2 separate regions of the Homo sapiens genome follow, and region 2 is linked to region 1. Evidence: fine-mapped expression QTL. A gene starts in region 1. The other region holds a variant in brackets. All regions are shown on one strand. Distances are from middle to middle.

Evidence for each region. PIP is the estimated chance that this variant, and not a neighbour inherited with it, causes the effect.
Region 2: its variant is fine-mapped to the expression of CDKN1A in whole blood (TOPMed, PIP 0.96).

Annotation. Positions count from the first base shown.
Region 1 is chr6:36,673,268-36,681,756 of GRCh38, forward strand. It overlaps CDKN1A (cyclin dependent kinase inhibitor 1A), which reads left to right and starts at 5,447. Exons shown (of 3, transcript NM_000389.5): 1 at 5,447-5,531. It overlaps PANDAR (promoter of CDKN1A antisense DNA damage activated RNA), which reads right to left and starts at 1,859. Exons shown (of 1, transcript NR_109836.1): 1 at 354-1,859. DINOL (damage induced long noncoding RNA) reads right to left here and starts at 5,292. Exons shown (of 1, transcript NR_144384.1): 1 at 4,342-5,292. It also overlaps the pseudogene LAP3P2. RefSeq lists enhancers at 2,959-3,048, 3,099-3,168, 3,148-4,347, 5,540-5,729, 5,741-6,328 and silencers at 5,260-5,489, 7,060-7,449.
Region 2 is chr6:36,751,001-36,763,499 of GRCh38, forward strand. It overlaps CPNE5 (copine 5), which reads right to left. Exons shown (of 21, transcript NM_020939.2): 12 at 11,917-11,992; 13 at 5,245-5,298; 14 at 2,034-2,095. Among named protein-coding and RNA genes, the nearest start is that of RAB44, 59 kb to the left of the region's middle. RefSeq lists enhancers at 4,362-5,561, 8,247-8,436, 8,272-9,240. The variant C/A (reference allele first, on the strand shown) is at 4,735.

The sequences.
Region 1 (8,489 bases):
ATAAATAAATAAATAAATAAATAAATAGGCCTGGCATGGTGGCTCACACCTGTAATCTCAGCACTTTGGGAGGCTGAGGCAGCCAGATAATTTAAGGTCAGGAGTTCAAGACCAGCTTGGCTAACATGATGAAACATGACGAAACCCCCGTCTCTGCTAAAAATTCAAAAATTAGCCAGTCATGGTTGTACATGCCTGTAATCCCAGCTACTCGGGAGGCTGAGGCAGGAAAATCGCTTGAACCTAGAAAGTGGAGGTTGCAGTGAGCTGAGATCACGCCACTGCACTCCAGCTTGGGCAACAGAGCAAGATTCCATCTCAAAAAATATATAAAAAATAAAAATAGGCTGGGCGCAGTGGCTCACGCCTGTAATCTCAGCACTTTGGGAGACCGAGGCAGACAGATCAACTGAGGTCGAGGTTTGAGACCAGCCTGACCAACATAGAGAAACCCTCTCTCTACTAAAATACAAACATTGGGTGGGGCGAGTCATCGTCTGACGTCTGGCCGTGAGATGTTTCGGGAGCCGGGGTCTCTCCGCTGCAGACATGACGAAGGGCCTTGTTTTAGGAATCTATTCCAAAGAAAAAGAAGATGATGTGCCACAGTTCACAAGTGCAGGAGAGAATCTTGATAAATTGATAGCTGGAAAGCTGAGAGAGACTTTGAACATATCTGGACCACCTCTGAAGGCAGGCAAGACTCGAAACTTTTATGGTCTGCATCAGGACTTCCCCAGCGTGGTGCTAGTTGGCCTCGGCAAAAAGGCAGCCAGAATCGACGAACAGGAAAACTGGCAGGAAGGCAAAGAAAACATCAGAGCTGCTGTTGCAGCAGGATGCAGGCAGATTCAAGACCTGGAGCTCTCTTCCGTGGAGGTGGATCCCTGTAGAGATGCTCAGGCTGCTGAGGAGGGCGCGGTGCTTGGTCTCTATGAATACGATGACCTAAAGCAAAAAAAGAAGATGGCTATGTCGGTGAAGCTCTATGGAACTGGGGATCAGGAGGCCTGGCAGAAAGGAGTCCTGTTTGCTTCTGGGCAGAACTTGGCATGATGGAGACGCCAGCCAGCGAGATGATGCCAACCAGATTTGCCGAAATTATTGAGAAGAATCTCAAAAGCGCTAGTAGTAAACCGAGTTTCATATCAGACCCAGGTCTTGGATTGAGGAACAGGCAATGGGATCATTCCTCAGTGTGGCCAAAGGATCTGACGAGCCCTCAGTCTTCTTGGAAATTCACTACATAGGCAGCCCCAATGCAGACAAACCACCCCTTGTTTGTTGGGAAAGGAATTACCTTTGACAGTGGTGGTATCTCCATCAAGGCTTCTGCAAATATGGACCTCATGAGGGCCGACATGGGAGGAGCTACAACTATATGCTCAGCCATTGTGTCTGCTGCAAATCTCAGTTTGCCCATTAATATTATAGGTCTGGCCCCTCTGTGAAAACATGCCCAGCGGCAAGGCCAACAAGCTGGGGGATGTTGTTAGAGCCAGGAACAGGAAGACCATCCAGGTTGGTAACACTGATGCTGAGGGGAGGCTCATACTGGCTGATGCGCTCTGTTACGTGCACACATTTAACCCGAAGGTCATCCTCAATGCCACCACCTTAACAGGTGTCATAGATGTAGCTTTGGGGTCAGGTGCCACTGGGGTCTTTACCAATTCATCCTGGCTCTGGAACAAGCTCTTCGAGGCCAGCATTGAAACAGGGGACCGTGTCTGGAGGATGCCTCTCTTCAAACATTGTACAAGACAGGTTGTAGATTGCCAGCTGGCTGATGTTAACAACATTGGAAAATATAGATCTGCGGGAGCATGTACATCTGCGGCATTCCTGAAAGAATTCGTGACTCATCCTAAGTGGGCACATTTAGACATAGCAGGTGTGATGACCAACAAAGATGAGGTTCCCTATCTATGGAAAGGCATGACCGGGAGGCCCACAAGGACTCTCATAGAGTTCTTACTTCGTTTCAGTCAAGACAATGCTTAGTTCAGATACTCAAAAATGTCTTCACTCTATCTTAAATTGGACAGTTGAAGTTAAAAGGTTTTTGAATGAATGGATGAAAATATTTTAAAGGAGGCAATTTATATTTAAAAATGTAGAACACAATGAAATTTTTATGCCTTGATTTTTTTTTCATTTTACACAAAGATTTATATATTTTTTTTTTGAGACGGAGTCTCACTCTGTCACCCAGGCTGGAGTGCAGGTGGCATGATCTCAGCTCACTGCAACCTCCGCCTCCTAGGTTCAAGCGATTCTCCCACCTCAGCCACCTGAATACCTGGGACTACAGGTGCCCACCACCATGCCCGGCTGATTTTTGTATTTTTAATGGAGACGGGGTTTCACCATATTGGCCAGGCTGGTCTCAAAACTCCTGACCCTGTGATCTGCCCGCCTCGGCCTCCCAAAGTGCTGGGATTACAGGCGTAAGCCACCACGCCCGGCCAGTATATATTTTTAATTGAGAAGCAAAATTGTACTTCAGATTTGTGATGCTAGGAACATGAGCAAACTGAAAATTACTAACCACTTGTCAGAAACAATAAATCCAACTTTTTGTGCAAAAAAAAAAATACAAATATTAGCTGGGCATGGTGGTGCATGCCTGTAATCCCAGCTACTCGGGAGGCTGAGGCAGAATTGCTTGAACCTGGGAGGCGGAGACTGCAGTGAGCTGAGATTGTGCCACTGCTGACTTTGTCTCAAAAAACAAAACAAAACAAAAAAACAAAATGAAAACAAAAAGCCAGGGCTGCCTCTGCTCAATAATGTTCTATCTTTGTTCCGCCTCTTCTCTGGGGTCTCACTTCTTGGGAGCCTGTGTGAAGGTGAATTCCTCTGAAAGCTGACTGCCCCTATTTGGGACTCCCCAGTCTCTTTCTGAGAAATGGTGACATTGTTCCCAGCACTTCCTCTCCCTTCCTAGGCAGCTTCTGCAGCCACCACTGAGCCTTCCTCACATCCTCCTTCTTCAGGCTTGGGCTTTCCACCTTTCACCATTCCCCTACCCCATGCTGCTCCACCGCACTCTGGGGAGGGGGCTGGACTGGGCACTCTTGTCCCCCAGGCTGAGCCTCCCTCCATCCCTATGCTGCCTGCTTCCCAGGAACATGCTTGGGCAGCAGGCTGTGGCTCTGATTGGCTTTCTGGCCGTCAGGAACATGTCCCAACATGTTGAGCTCTGGCATAGAAGAGGCTGGTGGCTATTTTGTCCTTGGGCTGCCTGTTTTCAGGTGAGGAAGGGGATGGTAGGAGACAGGAGACCTCTAAAGACCCCAGGTAAACCTTAGCCTGTTACTCTGAACAGGGTATGTGATCTGCCAGCAGATCCTTGCGACAGGGCTGGGATCTGATGCATGTGTGCTTGTGTGAGTGTGTGCTGGGAGTCAGATTCTGTGTGTGACTTTTAACAGCCTGCTCCCTTGCCTTTTTCAGGGCAGAAGTCCTCCCTTAGAGTGTGTCTGGGTACACATTCAAGTGCATGGTTGCAAACTTTTTTTTTTAAAGCACTGAATAGTACTAGACACTTAGTAGGTACTTAAGAAATATTGAATGTCGTGGTGGTGGTGAGCTAGAAGTTATAAAAAAAATTCTTTCCCAAAAACAACAACAAAAAGAATTATTTCATTGTGAAGCTCAGTACCACAAAAATTTAAATAATTCATTACAAGCCTTTATTAAAAAAAATTTTCTCCCCAAAGTAAACAGACAGACAATGTCTAGTCTATTTGAAATGCCTGAAAGCAGAGGGGCTTCAAGGCAGTGGGAGAAGGTGCCTGTCCTCTGCTGGACATTTGACAACCAGCCCTTTGGATGGTTTGGATGTATAGGAGCGAAGGTGCAGACAGCAGTGGGGCTTAGAGTGGGGTCCTGAGGCTGTGCCGTGGCCTTTCTGGGGTTTAGCCACAATCCTGGCCTGACTCCAGGGCGAGGCAGGCCAAGGGGGTCTGCTACTGTGTCCTCCCACCCCTACCTGGGCTCCCATCCCCACAGCAGAGGAGAAAGAAGCCTGTCCTCCCCGAGGTCAGCTGCGTTAGAGGAAGAAGACTGGGCATGTCTGGGCAGAGATTTCCAGACTCTGAGCAGCCTGAGATGTCAGTAATTGTAGCTGCTCCAAGCCTGGGTTCTGTTTTTTAGTGGGATTTCTGTTCAGATGAACAATCCATCCTCTGCAATTTTTTAAAAGCAAAACTGCAAATGTTTCAGGCACAGAAAGGAGGCAAAGGTGAAGTCCAGGGGAGGTCAGGGGTGTGAGGTAGATGGGAGCGGATAGACACATCACTCATTTCTGTGTCTGTCAGAAGAACCAGTAGACACTTCCAGAATTGTCCTTTATTTATGTCATCTCCATAAACCATCTGCAAATGAGGGTTATTTGGCATTTTTGTCATTTTGGAGCCACAGAAATAAAGGATGACAAGCAGAGAGCCCCGGGCAGGAGGCAAAAGTCCTGTGTTCCAACTATAGTCATTTCTTTGCTGCATGATCTGAGTTAGGTCACCAGACTTCTCTGAGCCCCAGTTTCCCCAGCAGTGTATACGGGCTATGTGGGGAGTATTCAGGAGACAGACAACTCACTCGTCAAATCCTCCCCTTCCTGGCCAACAAAGCTGCTGCAACCACAGGGATTTCTTCTGTTCAGGTGAGTGTAGGGTGTAGGGAGATTGGTTCAATGTCCAATTCTTCTGTTTCCCTGGAGATCAGGTTGCCCTTTTTTGGTAGTCTCTCCAATTCCCTCCTTCCCGGAAGCATGTGACAATCAACAACTTTGTATACTTAAGTTCAGTGGACCTCAATTTCCTCATCTGTGAAATAAACGGGACTGAAAAATCATTCTGGCCTCAAGATGCTTTGTTGGGGTGTCTAGGTGCTCCAGGTGCTTCTGGGAGAGGTGACCTAGTGAGGGATCAGTGGGAATAGAGGTGATATTGTGGGGCTTTTCTGGAAATTGCAGAGAGGTGCATCGTTTTTATAATTTATGAATTTTTATGTATTAATGTCATCCTCCTGATCTTTTCAGCTGCATTGGGTAAATCCTTGCCTGCCAGAGTGGGTCAGCGGTGAGCCAGAAAGGGGGCTCATTCTAACAGTGCTGTGTCCTCCTGGAGAGTGCCAACTCATTCTCCAAGTAAAAAAAGCCAGATTTGTGGCTCACTTCGTGGGGAAATGTGTCCAGCGCACCAACGCAGGCGAGGGACTGGGGGAGGAGGGAAGTGCCCTCCTGCAGCACGCGAGGTTCCGGGACCGGCTGGCCTGCTGGAACTCGGCCAGGCTCAGCTGGCTCGGCGCTGGGCAGCCAGGAGCCTGGGCCCCGGGGAGGGCGGTCCCGGGCGGCGCGGTGGGCCGAGCGCGGGTCCCGCCTCCTTGAGGCGGGCCCGGGCGGGGCGGTTGTATATCAGGGCCGCGCTGAGCTGCGCCAGCTGAGGTGTGAGCAGCTGCCGAAGTCAGTTCCTTGTGGAGCCGGAGCTGGGCGCGGATTCGCCGAGGCACCGAGGCACTCAGAGGAGGTGAGAGAGCGGCGGCAGACAACAGGGGACCCCGGGCCGGCGGCCCAGAGCCGAGCCAAGCGTGCCCGCGTGTGTCCCTGCGTGTCCGCGAGGATGCGTGTTCGCGGGTGTGTGCTGCGTTCACAGGTGTTTCTGCGGCAGGTGAATGACGGGCGTGGGTCGGTGCGCGCTCGGCTTGCGCACACGGTGTCTCTAAGTGCGCGGGTGACGAGAGTCGGGATGTGCCGGAGACCCCGGGGCGGAGAGCGGGATTACAAGTACAGGAATCCCTGGTCACGCTCCCCGCCCCTGGAAACCCAGCTGGGGCGAGGGAGGGCGTGGACGGGACCGTTCTGGGAGCTCGCCTTTGGCTGCGGTTGGCTCCAGGCCCCAGGCGCAGTTTGCTCGCGGCGTGGGGATGAAGTCCGTGTCCCTGGAGGGGCCCAGGAAGGGCGAGGAAAGCGGAGTGGAGTAAGTTCGTCTAGGATCGGTCCCGGGTGGCTCTGGGATCCAATCTGCGCCGCCCTGGCCCAGGTCCCAGGTTCAGGTCCTTTACGCCACTGTGTCCACCACCTGGCTGAGCGCTGAGGTCAGCGCGGGCTGTTTCCTGGCCCTTGGGAATGTGCCAGGACCCGTCCCCTAAGGACTAGCGAGGAGGTGACTCACTGTGACAAGGAGACCCCAGGGAACGGACTGTATGAGGTCAGAACCCCGCCCGGGATGGGGTACAGCGGGACTCCAGAAGCCCTCTCCCCTGCCCCTTCGCGGTCTCCGTCCTCCCATCGGCACAGTGACCTATTTGGCTGGAACAGTTTGTTCCCAAGGAAGCCGGGCACTGGAGGTCCGGGACACCGCGTCGGGTCCCCGCTCCGCGGCGCGCTGTAGGGGTCGGGGAGTCACGGCCCTGCTCTGGGCGGGCTCTAACCAGCCTGTCAGTCGGGGAAGGGCAAGGGTCTCCTCTACCTCTTTCCCACCGCGGCCGGGAGAATCGCGGCCCAGCCTGTCCTCGGGTCGGGGCGCTGGACTCCGGGGCGGGAGCGGAGCCCACGCCTGGATGGGAGGCGGGGAGGGTTCATGTCTTTGAGGGGTGGGGGGTCTGGGGGGCACGACGCTGCTCAGGGCCTCTATCAGCTGCCTCGGGGGCTCAGGGCTTCCCGACCTAGCCCAGATTCCCTCTCCGAAAGCTACAGGGCTGAGCGGAGCAGGGGGGCGAGTCGCCCCCTGGGGCGCCGCCGCCTGGCGCGGACCACAGCGCGTCCTCTCCGTCCCAAACCCCTGGGGGACACTTGCGCCCTCTTCGTGAGGAAAAGCATCTTGGAGCTGGGTTAGGAACTTGGGGCGCCCAGGCAGCTTCCCCTCTCCTTGCCTCCCTCCACGTCGCGTTTCTGGGAGGACTTGCGAGCGGTTTTGTTTTCGTTGCTCCCGTCTATTTTTATTTTCCAGGGATCTGACTCATCCCGTGCTTTGGGCGTGGAGATAAGGTGGAGGGGCCGGCTCCCGGCGCGCGCGCGCGTGCGTGTCTGCGCGGGCGTGTGTGTGTGTGTGTGTGTGTGTGTGTGTGTGTGTGTCTGTGTCAGAGACGGCACAAGAGCGCGCGGTTTCCCAACAGCGGCGGGAGTTTCGGAAGCCTGGCCGGCTCAGCGTGACGTGTTCGCGGCCCCCCGGTCCCCTCCCATTCTCCCCCTCCCCACCCCAGGGTGACGCGCAGCCGGAGTGGAAGCAGTTTTGGCGGGCGAGCAGCGCCTTGCAGGAAACTGACTCATCACTACTCCCTCCAGCGGTCCGAGGCTCTGCCCACGCACCTCCCACTCCGCGCGTGATTTCCTGGAGGCCGGCGCCCCCTCCCGGCCCTGGCGGGAATAGCACACAGGCTTTCCCGCGGAGTGGGGCTGGCCGGCGCGAACCGCCGCGGCTACTCCTGGGCTCATCCGAGATCAACCCCTATGCCATTACCACCCCTTCAAAGGAGCACTCCTTAGGTTCAACAGTATTCACTGAGCTCTTACTGGAAATTAAAATATGGCTGAAGTCTAAGGCAGGAAGGCCAATAAAGGAGGCTATTTTTAATTGTTTCTAAAACAAGGGTTTGCGTTTCTGAGTTTTCTTTGGGCTGAAAGTTATTATGAGCATGAGAGCAGATTTTGATGGGGGAGGAGAGGCCTATGAGAGCCATAAGAGAAGGAGGGGTGGTAGAAGAGGAGAGGGTGCCTGCCTAGATCCTAGTCCTGTCTTGAACTCCCGAGAGCCAGGGAATATCCAGCACCTTGATGAAGCCCTAGGCGGGCGCCTCCTCCTTGTGCCTATGATGTATTGAGACCCAGAATGTCCATTTCAAACATACCAGTGTGTCTCCGCTTGGCTGGCAACCCAAGAGTGCCCATCTGAGGAATTGTGCCAAACACTTGCTTGAATCTTCAATCTGGATTAAGTTGGTCTCGGGAGGCAGGGCCTCAGCAATCTATATTTTGAAAAAACTCCCTAGGTGCTTTTCTTTCTTTCTTTTTTTCTTTCTTTCTTTCTTTCTTTCTTTCTTTCTTTCTTTCTTTCTTTCTTTCTTTTTCTTTCTTTCTTTCTTTTTCTTTCTTTTCTTTCTTTCTTTCTTTCTTTCTTTCTTTCTTTCTTTCTTTCTTCCTTTCTCTTTCTCTCTTTCTTTCTCTTTCTCTCTTTCTTTCTTTTCTTTCGACAGAGTTGCACTCTGTCACCCAGGCTGGAGTGCAATGGCACCATCCTGGACTCAAGTAGTCCTCCTGTTTCAGCCTCCCAAGTAACCGGGACCACAGGCGTGATCCCCCCGCCCCCATGCCCAGATTTTTTTTTTTTTTTTTTTTTTTTTGAGATGCGGTCTCGCTCTGTCACCCAGGCTGGAGTGCAGTGGCGTGATCTCGGCTCACTGCAAGCTCCGCCTCCCGGGTTCACGCCATTCTCCTGCCTCAGCCTCCCGAGTAGCTGGGACTACAGGTGCTGCCATCATGCCCGGCT
Region 2 (12,499 bases), 80 kb after region 1:
GACAGTGGGGCCAAAGTACCCATACCCTTCCTCCTGGGTCCAGGTGGGCAGGTGAGGGAGGCCAGGGAGGAGAGGATCCCTAGACATCAGCTTCCTGCCTGGGCATGCATGCCAGGCTCTCAGTCCCTGGAGCCAGCTCCCTCACTCAGGCTCTCCAGAGAGTTTAAAGAGAGGGCTGGCTCTGGGGCTATAACCTGCCCAGTATGGGTGGCACCAGCTTAGCTCAGCCTCTGAGGGCTCCTTTTCGATGAAACCTCACAGCATCCAGCCCTTTAACTCATCAGTCTCCATCTTCATCCCACCCCACCCGCTAACTGCAAGTCAGGCAGGCTAGACTGATTCATTACTATAGAATGAAAGGCAGCATGTTATGGGAGAAGGAACCCTGCCACCATCTAGGCGTGTGGCTTCAGGCAAGCTCTGTAAAATGGGGATAACTGTTCTGATCCTGCCCACTGTGTTCTGTAAGTTGGGGGTACTATGCAAATGAAAAAAATAAATAGGATGGACTGGGTGTGGTGGCTCATGCCTGTAATCCCAGCACTTTGGGAGGCCGAGGCAGGCGAATCACCTGAGGTCAGGAGTTCGAGACCAGCCTGGCCAAAATGGTGAAAGCCCGTCTCTACTAAAAATACAAAAATTAGCTGGGGGTGGTGGCGCATGCCTGTAGCCCCAGCTACTCTACTTGATAGGCTGAGGCAGGAGAATTGCTTGAACCCAGGAGGCGGAGGTTGCAGTAAGCCGAGATTGTGCCACTGCACTCCAGCCTGAGTGACAGAGCGAGACTCTGTCTCAAAAAATAAATAAAATAAAATAAAATAAAATAAACATAAATAAAAATAAACAGGATGAGGGGTGTTTGAGAGTTACCAGGTGCTATGGACTGTAAGGGGTGGCTGATTAATGGGATTGAGAGGGAAGCAATTTTGATGGGGGAAGAGTGCAAAGGCGGGGTCTGGAGTCAGCCCAGAGGAGGGGCAGGTAAGAGCAGAGGAGCTCCTGAGTGACTGGAGGCAGGGTGTGTGCTCAGTGGGTAGGAGGAGAGCTTGCAGCCTTGAGACTGCAAGCTCAAGGCAGCAGGGAGTGTTGTCATGGGAAAGTGAGTGTGGCTTCCCAGGACCTGACTTCTCCCTCTGCCCTGGAGAACCAGGCAGCCAAGGGTCCACTTGGCTGGGATGAGCCTTTGGCAGTTGCTCCTGCCTGTCTCCTTTCCAGACAGGTGCAGTCACTCACCTGCGGGCTCTTGGCTGCCCACGCCCTGACCTGGCACCTGTCCTGGCAGGCAGCATGCTGGGCAGGCTCTACCCTTAGAGCCAGGCTCTTTCCGTGAGCTGCTGGCTGGGGCCTCCTGGCTCCCCCATCTGTCTGGGCCTAGACACTGTGCCTGGTGGTTCTTTCTGCTCCTTAAACTCATGTTTGACCACCTGCTGGCCCCAGGACCAATCCCTGGCTTATCCCCAATCCCGCTGCCCTTACAGGGCCCTAATAACAGTGAGCAGGTTAATCACTGTCCCCCTCCCCCAACCAGACAGATCAGAGGTGTCAGAAGCTCAGAGCTGTAAGGAACCTTAACACTTACCTATTCCGTTCTCTTTGTGTACAGAGGAGGAAACTGATACCCTGAGAGGAAAAATGACTCACCCAAAGGAACCCAGCAAATTAATGGCAAAGAGAGGCCTAGAGCCTGGGCCTCCTGACTCCTATTGCAGGGTTCTTTCTACATCCCCAAGCCCTTGGCTTTCTGTCACGGAGTCCCTACCAGCTCCAGGTCCTGTCTCTGCATGGAGACCTGACATGACCCAGGCCAGCCTCCTTGGCTCAGGAGTTCCCTCCAAGCTGCTTGGGATCTGGGGATGTGCAGGGCTCTGGATGAGTTGTCTCAGCCCAAACACCAGGGTTTGCTCAGAGCCCAGCACCACAGCCTTCAACCAGGGCTTTGAAGAGGCCAGGGTGGGGCCAGAGCCGGTCCTGTCGGTGTGTGGGGCCCTTTCCCTCTCCCCAAGGCCCATGAAATTGGCTGTATCTCTTCTCACCCTCCTTTGATGTAGTCAAGGAAGGTGCACTCTGACTCCACAGCAAAGGAAAGCAGGGTGACCTTCAAAACAAAAGGGAGCTTGGTCAGTGGGGAGCCTGGGGTCAGGGGAGATGGGTTATGATTCGAGAGCTGACATTGACAGAACACTCGGCATGTGCCAGTTTTGCATGCATGACTGCATGCACTGCCCACACCACCCCATGAAGTACTATTATTATCCCCACTTTATAGCCAAGGAAACTGAAACCCAAAGAGGTGGTGCAATGTGCCCAAGGACACTGCCAGGGCAGAGAAGGGATCTGAAACCAGGGTGTGTCTGACTTCAGAGCCTGCACTCTTGACCTTGACGGAAGGGTCCCATCTGTGTCAGTGGAACCGGGGTCCAAGCCAAGGGTGTTAGTTTCCTCTAAGTGGGCACTGGCTCTTCAGCCCCAGGGACCTAGGGTGGGGTGTGGAGGACAAGGGGGCCCTCCTGGCACAGGCCTAACAACCTGCCAATGCCGACCAGCTTCAGGCTTCCATGTGCCTAGAGCTATTAGTCCTGAAATGTGCCTCTTTGGACTGTGCTTATCTTAAATCTTACTGGTCCCATCTCATCCCTCTCAGACCCAAGATCCTGCCTCATAAGTAGCCCATCCTTTTCCCCAGAGGTAACTGACTACCCCAGGCCCCCTCCCCCAAGCAGAGGCCTTTTAACCTATGCCCTGGCAAAGTTAGCTTTGGCTTTGCCAAGACAGGCAGCTACCTGGCAGCTCATTATCATAACAATTTAGAATCAAGGAGACAAATGAAAGCCTGGCATCCTAGGCCAATTATATGAGACAAGATTAGGGCAGAGGACCTTTCACCTGTGTAAGAGAACGAACTCCTCTCTGGTAGTTTGGGAGCCCCCTATTCATGAAGATTCAGCTGTTTTTACAGGCTCATTGGGAGGGCCAGGTGAGAGCACCACCCTTACTTGGCAGTAAGACCCCCAGCTATTGTGGTTAAGGTATTAGGCACCTGGATGAACCACAGGCCTCCTTCCAAGTGTGGCAGCTCAGACTTACTAGGAACCACGGCAGTGGCTTCAACCCTGACTGATGACCATGAGATGCCCTGGGGGCTCTTAGATCATCCTGCAGCCCAGACCCATTATAGCCGAGTTTCCGGGGCTACATGAATGTTTCAGAGATCTTCTTTTTTTTTTTTTTTTTTAGCTCTTCACGTAAGTCTAATCTGCAGACACAGTTGACCACTCCCCATTCCAACCCCCAGGATGAAGCAATGCCCTAACTGCCCTGACCATATGGGTTCACCCAGGGGCTCGCAGGGTGAAAGCAGACTTTCCCCTATTCAAAGGGTAGTGTCCCTAGACCAGAGCGTCAGCATCACCTCGATGCCAGGTAGAAATGCAGAAATGCAGATTCTTGGCATTTTCACAAGATCCCCAGGGGATTCTGCACACCATAAGTAAGGGATGAAAAGCACTAAACACAGATTCCTGGGCCTCCTAAAGTGGAATCCCAGGGAACTGGCCTGGGCGTCTGTATTTCAGCAAGCTTTCTGCATCCCGGGTGATTTTTCGCGATGAAGATGGGGAAATGCTGGAGTAAAAGGAAAGTCAAGAGACCTGGGCCTAGGCCCGCTCTGTCTCCAGCTCACTGTGTGACCTGGGACAAATCGCATGCCCTCTCTAGGCCACAGTTTCTTCGTCTCTAAAGTAAGAAGGCTGGATGAGATCAGTGGTTTTTGAACCTTTTTATTCCCAGCTGGGGAAGGTGCTGTCTTCCCTAGGGGAATTTAGGAAGGCGTGGGAGAATTTTGGGGGTTCTCATAATGACTGGGGCTCTACTGGTAGCTATGGGCAGCAGCCAGGGGTGCTAAACATCCTGTGAGATGAAGAATTTTCCTGCCCAAATGCTGACAGCCTCTCCACTAAGAAACACCGCAGCCTTGGACAAAGGAAATATGACTCCAAGCCCCAGTCTGTGAAGCAGTTACAATCAAAGAAGTGGTGTTCAGTCCCCTTTGAATGAGCAGAGTAATTTTACAGTTCACAAGCCTGCATCTCCCATGTGTCTGTCACAGCTGCCCTGTGCAGTGGCAAGGTGGGGATGATTTATTAGTCCTACTTTACAGACGGAGAAAATGAGGCTTCTCAGAGGAACCCCAGAGCTCCTGAAAACCTCTTCTAGGTCTGGAGATACAGTCTGCCTGACTCAAATGACCAGGCTTGGCTGCACTAGCCATGGGCCTCTAGAGTGAGGAAGGAACACAGAGAGGATGAATCTGGGTGTGTTTGCACTGCAGAGAAAGTGGCTTGTTCTAGAAATGCACTGTGAGCTCCACCTCAGGGCCTTTGCATGTGCTGTTCTCTACAGCAGGAATGCTGGAATTCCCTTTCCCCAGTATCCTCAATACTTCCTCCATTGCCTGTCCCTTTACCCTTTATACTTTTTCCATAGCTCTCATAATCAACTGACACACACAGGCATGTGTGTGTGTGTGTGTGTGTTTTTTTTTTTTCTCTGTCTCCTCCCACTAGAATATAAGCACCAGGGATTTGGGTCTGTCTTGTTTCCAGCTGTATCTGATGTGCCTAGAATAGTGCCTGGCACACAGTAGCACTCAGTAAGTATTTGCTGAAGAAGCGTATGAATGTCCTCAAGACCAGCCCCGAGAAGCCACTAGGCCGGCGTGTCATCCCAGGAAGGTCA[C/A]GGTTAAGCAGGGGCAGCGCCCGTAGCAGCTGCCAGCTCTGGAGTGAGATGTCATGTTGAGTCCCATCTCTACCACTTTCTAGCTGTGTGACCTTGGCTGAGTCACTTTCCTGCTTGCAGCCTTGGTTTCCTCTTTCATGACTAGGGGATGATAATATCTGCCTCTCAGGGCAACAACCTGTGAAAAGCACCAACGTGGGGAATTTCCCAGGGTAGGGGCCCAATAAATACGACTTCTCTTCCTCTTCCTTCCTGCAGGAAGTCCCGTGGATGTCTCTGCGATTCCTCATGCTAGATACAGCCAGCGCCTGTTGTGTGGTCTGCAAGTCAACTCTCTCCCCTGGCTGTTGCTCCATCTGCCCCACCCCTCCCCACCCCATCTCTCTTGGATGTCTGATTCCCACGCTCAGCCCCTGCACACACACAGACGCACGGGCCTCCCTGATACCAGACCTAGCTTGGGGCTCAGAATGTCTACACCCGGCTGCAGAGACCGGGGTGGCTACTCACTGTGCCAGAATTCACGTATTTCTTTTTCTTCATTTTCTTTTTCGGGTTTACCACCTGCAGGAAAAACCAGTTACCAGGTAAGGCATGCTTCCAGGCAGTCAGGGTGAGTCTTGAGGGCTTCCAACCACCCATGGGTGTGGTCCAAGCCCAGCCCCATTAGAGTGTGGGGTGTGAAGACCACGGGGCCAGGGGAGAAGGGTTTAAGGAGGATTTGTGGGAGACTGGTATTGAGTCTGGGTTACACAACTGGGTTCTCCCATCAGACCCAGGGTCCCACGATCAACCGGGAATATTTATTTAACCTTCTCTCCCACTGTTCCCCGGAACACACGCACCCTCCACCCAGTATAGCCAAAGAAGTCTTGATGTTGCAAAGCGGCCCTATCTGTACCTGTCCCTTGTGTTGGTTGAGGCTGCTCCCCTCACCAAAAATGCACCCCCTTCCTCTCTCAGCCAATTCCAATCTCCCCTGTTCCTCCTTTGGGACCCAGCCCAAGGGCTGCCCAGGGCCTCTGAGGCTCCCCTCTCCATCACCATCCCTCTTACTTGGCAGCAAGAACCTCTTTAGCTATTCTTTGAGTGTAAGCTTTAACTTCCAAACCAGACCTGTGTCAGATAAATCATGGGGCTAGGCTCAGAGTAGGTGCTCAGAGAAGGCTTGTTGGTGGCTAACTCAGCGGTCTCAACCAGGGGCGATTTTACCCCCAGGAACGTTTGGTAACATCTGGAGACGGTTTTGGTTTCCACAACTGAGGGGGTGAGTAGAGGCCAGGCATGCTGCTAAACATCCTACAGTACACAAGACAGCCTCCCACGGCAGGGAGTGATGCAGTCCCAAATCCCAGTAGTGCCAAGGCCAAGACTGGGCAAAGTGACGAGAGCCACCCAGCCCTGAGGCCCCCCACGAGACTTCCGCACTTACTGTATTTGTATTCTCATTTGACCCTCGCCAGTTTTTCTTTGTTTTGTTTTTAATAAGGGAAGTCTAGGCACAACTTTTCCCTAATGTCCCATCAAACAAAGCCAGGCAATTTTCATACCTCCTGTGCTGCCTGTTGGTTTCTGGTGAACTCATTTCCCCTTTCCCTGTCTTTGTTCCCACAGAGGCCGTCAGCTGATCTTTACCGTGGTCTCTTCTGTCTGGGTGAGTATTGCTATCTACTTCCAGCAAGAAGGAAACTAAAGCACAGCGACACCAGGTGATTTGCCTAAAGTCACACAGCCATCTGGGTAGTGACAGGATTAGAAACCAGGTTTCCTGCCCCCGGGCCAGTGGTGCATACATTGGTGCCACCTTGATAACAGATACAAACAGATCTCTTTGACATACATTTATGGGGTGGGTGGAGACATATATTGCTTCTCCCCTGGAATCATCTATCACCTATGTTGGAGAGAGAAGATATGTCCTCAGGGCAAAAAGTGACAAGGGCCATGGAACAAGGGGGATCACAGAAGTGTCAGGGGAGTTAGAGGAAGGAAAGACCACTCTAGGTGAGAGTGTCAGCAAAGCCTCTCTGGAGCAGGAAGTCTTGAAGGCAGACTTAGAGGCACAGGAAGGCTCTGGGCACGGAGAGATGGATGTCAGAGGAGGTTCTGTGGGAGAAATGAATAGAACCCAGGCCCAGTTTGATGGCAGAACCACAGGGTGGAAGAGTAAGCTGGGCTGGTTGGAGGAGAGCCTAGAATGCCCAGTGAAAAATGTCTGAATGTCACCCAGCGGCCTGCAGGGAACTCTGATGACCCCCAAGCTGGTAGGAGACAAAATCAGAGCAGGCTCTAGGACACTGGGGCCTGGTGGAGGTGAGTGTGAGGGGAGGAGGAGGCTCATCCAGGAAATATTTGCCTAGTTCTGCCACCTAATAATAGCTGTGTGACCTTAGGCAGGTTACTTAACCTCAATGTGCCTCAGTCTCCTCATCTCTAAAATGGGAATAAGAAGTACCTGCCTCCCGGAAAGGTATGAGGATTAAATGGGCCAATGCAAGCAAAGTGCCTAGAACAGTTTGGAATGTAGTAAGTATTATCTATACGTGTCTGTTGCTTTTTTCTAAGACGGGGTCTTGCTCTATGGCCCAGGCTGGAGTGCAGTGGTGGGGTCATAGCTCACTGTGGCCTCAACCTCCCGGGCTCAAGCAATCCTTCCAGGTAGCTGCCACCATGTCTGGCTATTTTTTTTTTTTTGGTAGAGATAGGATCTCGCTATGTTACTCTGGCTGGTCTCAAACTCTTGGGCTCAAGCAATCCTCCTGCCTCAGTCTCCCAGAGTGTTGGGATTACAGGCGTGAGCCACTGCACCCAGCCTTAGTTGCTATTTTTCAAAATTACTACTACTATTATTACTGCCACCATAAGTCCATGCGAGAGGTCATGAGGACTTGGGGGTATTGGGACAGGTGCTGAGCTATGGTGAGAACAGCGCTGTCAAGAAGTGACCACGCCTCTTGGGCCCTGGGCGTGGCTATAGAGGTTCGAGAGAGGGAGGGGTTGGGGTGACCAGGTAGACACAGAAGGAAGGCGCTGGATTTGGGGCACAGGTGGGAAGTTCACGTGGGAGGTCTGGCAAGCTGTGCAGGTAGAAACTGAGGGCCTGGGCGAGATGGTGAGAGAGCCCGGGAGAGAAGACCAGAGCACCCTCTTTAGCACTGGAGGACGCCCCCTCCACGGGGTTACCCAGATGGTGAGGTGCTCACGGACACATTCATGGGAAAACAGCTTAAGTAGGCAAGCTGTTAAGATGAGGGCAAAATGGCAGCCCCAGTGCTGCACTGTGCCTCAGTTTCCCAATCTCTCCCTTGAGGGTGTTGAACTATCGGAATGGACAGCATCTCAAACTTTTGCTCCAACATAGCCCTCCCAGCTGGGGAGAATGAACCCGGAGTCCTGAGAGTAACCAAAGATTTGGCCACAAGCATGTTTCTTCTAAGCTTTCTATGTTATCTTTAAATTAGCCTGTATTCCACATTTCCACTCTCTGATATAACTGCTTTAATGTTAAAGCAATGTTCTGTTCTCAGATCCCTGTTTACCCTGAGGTTTCATGCTCCCAGCCTCAGCCTCTCCAGCCCCGCCACGGTGAATCCCATGCAGGGGGCCAGCGCCACCTAGGGGCCAGCCGAGGAGCTGCCCCTCCACTAAGTCACCTCCCTTCTTCTTGGTGGTCAGGCGGGGACAGGACAGGTCTGGAATCTGCCCTCCTGCGCACATTAGGTGGGGTGGGTGGGGGCACTGAGGGGCTCCTAGGGGCCAGGAGCTGTGCTGGCTCTGGGGATGCAGCAGTAAGTGCAACACAACCCCCACCCTGAGGACTTCAAGGTCTTTGAGGGGTTGAATAGTGTCACAAAACAGAAAATAGCCAGAAGGAACCCCAGGAGCACTGACAAGTGTCCACTCCAGGCTCTGGGGTGGGGCGGGTGTGCAGGTGGACACAACTTCCTGGAGGAGGAACACCCACAGGGAGGCTCCGTGGACCAATAGCTCCTACCCAGGAGAAGACAAGAGGGAGTCTCAGGTGGAGGCACCCATATGAATCGAGCCCTGGAGGCTGAGACAGCACGGAGGTTCAGAGAGCCTCAGGTGGCAGGACGGGGATGAATGTGGGAATGGGCAGAGGGAAGGGGCAGGGGCCAGCTCCTAGGGGCCTCCAAAGGCATGTGATGTGTGTTTTTATTTACATGCACAGCCAGGCGTGGTGGCTCACACCTGAAATCCCAGCACTTTGCAAGGCCGAGGCGGGTGCATCACCTGAGCTCAGGAGTTGGAGGCCAGACTGGGCAACATGGCAAAAACCCATCTCTACCAAAAATGCAAAAAAAAAAAAAAATCGCCAGGGTGGTGGTGTGTGCCTGTGGTCCCAGCTACTTGGGAGACTGAGGTGGGAGGATAGCTAGAGCCTGGAAGTAGAGGTGGAGGTTGCAGTAAGCCGAGATTGTGCCACTGCACTCCAGCCTGGGTGAGAATGAGACTCCATCTTAAAAAAAAAAAAAAAGCACGCATACACAGATTGCGGGTGGCTGGCTGGGGAAACAGCATCCCAAATGAAAGAGCTTGGAACTTCACCCTGTAGGTCAGTGGATCTCAGCTGCGGTGGGAGCATCTTTCAGTATCTCTTCCCACCTCCCATGTGCGAACCAGGCTAAGGAGGTGGGTGGAATGCCCTACACAGATTTTAAGCAGGGGAGCGATGTGATCAGATCACTATTTTGGTGGAGTACGCTGGTTACTGTGTAGAGGACAGAAGGAAGAAAGGAGGCTGTGGCAAAGCCCCATAAGGGGGGAGATGATGAAGTTGGTGGTGGTGGCCTGAGATGAGGGGAACGATGTCAGAAAACATGGGTGGTAGGCGAGCAGTGTTTGCTCGTGGACTGGATATGGAATGAGGGATGGGGAAGTTAAGTATGACCCCTAAGGTGCCCTGAGCCCCCATGATGGGAATATTTGAGATGAAGCCGGCTCGCCAGGAGGACGGGAGTGCTGTGGGAGGTTTAGCTAATGTGTTCAGTTTTGGAAGGCTGAGCTACAGGAAGGGCCAGCAGACAGCTGGACATAGGAGCCTGACACTAGGGCAATGCCAGGGCCCGAGGCACAGGTCTTTACTGGCTGGAGCCTGTTCCCTTTTCAGGCAGTTCTGATTCTAGCAAGGCCTTCCTGCCCCAAACCAGCCTCCCCCTGGGACTGCCAGAGCTGTGCTCCTTTTTCAGCTGATGGCCTTCCGATGTGTGCAGACAGTGCTTCTGCCTCCCAGTGTGGCACTTTCTCTTGTTGATTACAAAGAAGCAGGGATCAACAACTGAGAAAACAAGTCAATTGAATGCTTTCTGCTCTTAGCCCGAGAGAAACAGCTCCTTCTGGGCCTGTCAAGCACCTTTAGAAGCCAAGCTCGGAGAGATCTGACCCCTTCCCTTCACCTCCCTAAATCTCCTCAAAGGAGGCCAGAGAATGGTGGCATCTGCTTCTCTCTGACTGGGGTGGGGCGGGGGAGCGGGGACAAAGACAGCTTCTCTCTTTGCAGATGCAGAAAACAAAGCAATGTACTGTATTAGAGCCCTTTCAAATAAATTCATCCACACTCCATCTTCACAATAGCCATGTTCAATCTCATTCAGCATGCGAATGTATAACACACCTACTGTGTGCCCGGCAGTGCCCTGGCCAGTGAGGGGAGGCAACAGACAGGGCTGTCACCTCACCAGCCCTTGGAAAGTCTAGTTGGAACACAAGACCTGCCCACTCAGAACCGACATGCAGGGCAAAGGAGTGGGGGTAGCATGGGATTTGGATTCAGTGATGGAACTCAAGGCCAGCTCTTCAACTTTGCTGGCTGAGTGGCTGCTAGCATGAGGACAGTGCCAGGATGGTAGGATGGTTGTAAAATGTGAACCTCTGGGCACACAGTGCTCAGCAGATGGTGACAGAAGACAGTGCTGACCTCTGGGTCAGGCATTGTTCCATTAACTTATTTAATTCTCAGTTTGCATGGCACAGAGTAGTTCAGAGACTTAGCCAAGGTCACGTAGCTAGTAAGTGGTAGAGTCAGGATACGAACACAAGCAGTTATTTGGGTTATAAGTATCTGCCATTAAGTGGGTTTGGCATGAACCATGATGTCTGTGGAAGTTCAGACAAGAAAGCACGGGGACAAGAGTGGCTGGGAAGACCTCACAGAGGAGCAGGACCTGAGCTAGATTTGGAAGGTGGGGAGGGAATTGCAAAAGGGAGAGCACACAGTAGAACGCGGTGGCTCAGGCCTATAATCCCAGCACTTTGGGAGGCCAAGGCAGGAGGATCGCTTGAGCCCAGGAGCTCAAGACCAGCCTGGGAAACATAGCGAGATCCTGTCTCTACAAGAAATTTAAAAAATTAGTTGGGCATGGTGGTGCGTGCTTGTGGTCCCAGCTACTCGGGAGGCTGAGGTGGGAGGATCGCTTGAGCCTGGGAGATTGGGGCTGCAGTGAACCAGGGCAACAGAGTGAGGCCCTGTCTCAAAAAAAAAAAAAAAAGAGGGAGAACACACACATGCACACGCATACACACACACGCACGCGCACACACACATACATGCACACACACACACACACGCATGCGCACACACGCAAATACATGCTCACACACACACACACACATGCAGACATTGTCCCTTGAGGGCAAATGCTACTGTTACACCTCCAGAGAGACCAGGTGCCTTGTCCGAGGCTCTCCAGCTCTGGGGCTAGAACAAGGAAGGTATCCTGACCTCATTCTCTTGAAGTTTTCATTCTGAAACAGGTAAGATACTCAGCAGGCCCTGAAACTGTTCTGATTGAAAGCACAAGGCCACCTCGAACTCAGGACCTCAGGTCTCAAGCCCAGAACCTTCGTATACTGGCTCCCATCGTGCTCCTATCTCTCTTGCTTGTGAGAACTGCTCTTTATGGGGACACTATAACTCGGTGATTTGGAATCAGCCAAGTCTGGGTTGTTTGTGTCTTGATTTTGCCACTTACTGAATGGTGGAACTTTGGGCAAGTTCTCGCACTTCTCCAAGACTTGGTCTCCTTAACGGTAGAATGGGACAATAACCCCTTTCTCACAGGAAAACACACCAAGCCCCCAGCCCAGTGCATGGCTCACTACAGTCCTCAGTGACTGGGCCACTTAGTAGTGCAAACCCTGGATTTCGGGTGCCCACCTCACCTCATAGATGTTGAATTGGCTCTGCCCACGGGCCAGCTCCCGGTAACTGGTGGTGAACTCCCCAATGAAGTCATGGCTGCAAGGGAAGACGGCTGCTGAGACCAAGGCCAGGCTGTGCCCTGCCTCTGCCCAGCCCCAGCCTTGCACACATCCGTTTCTTTGGCTCCCAATTCTACCTGGGACTCCACTCCAGGGGCACACGCCAGCAGACAGGCTGGGTCCGTGGGAAGAGAGCCCAGTGTTGCCCACAGAGGAAGAAACCCAATTGTCACCCAGTAAAGAGCAGGGCCCTGGAAGAACAGCACCCACTTCTACTTGGATCCTTGTTTGAACAAGGGTATTTGGGGGACAACTGGGGAAATTTGAATATGAAATGAATAGTGAATGGTATTTAAAAATATTGTGGCCGGGCGCGGTGGCTCATGCCTATAATCCCAGCACTTTGGGAGGCCAAGGCGGGCAGATCACCTGAGGTCAGGAGTTCGAGACCAGCCTGGCCAATAAGGTGAAACCCCGTCTCTATTAAAAATACAAAAATTAGCCAGGCGTGGTGGTGGACACCTATAATCCTAGCTACTCCAGA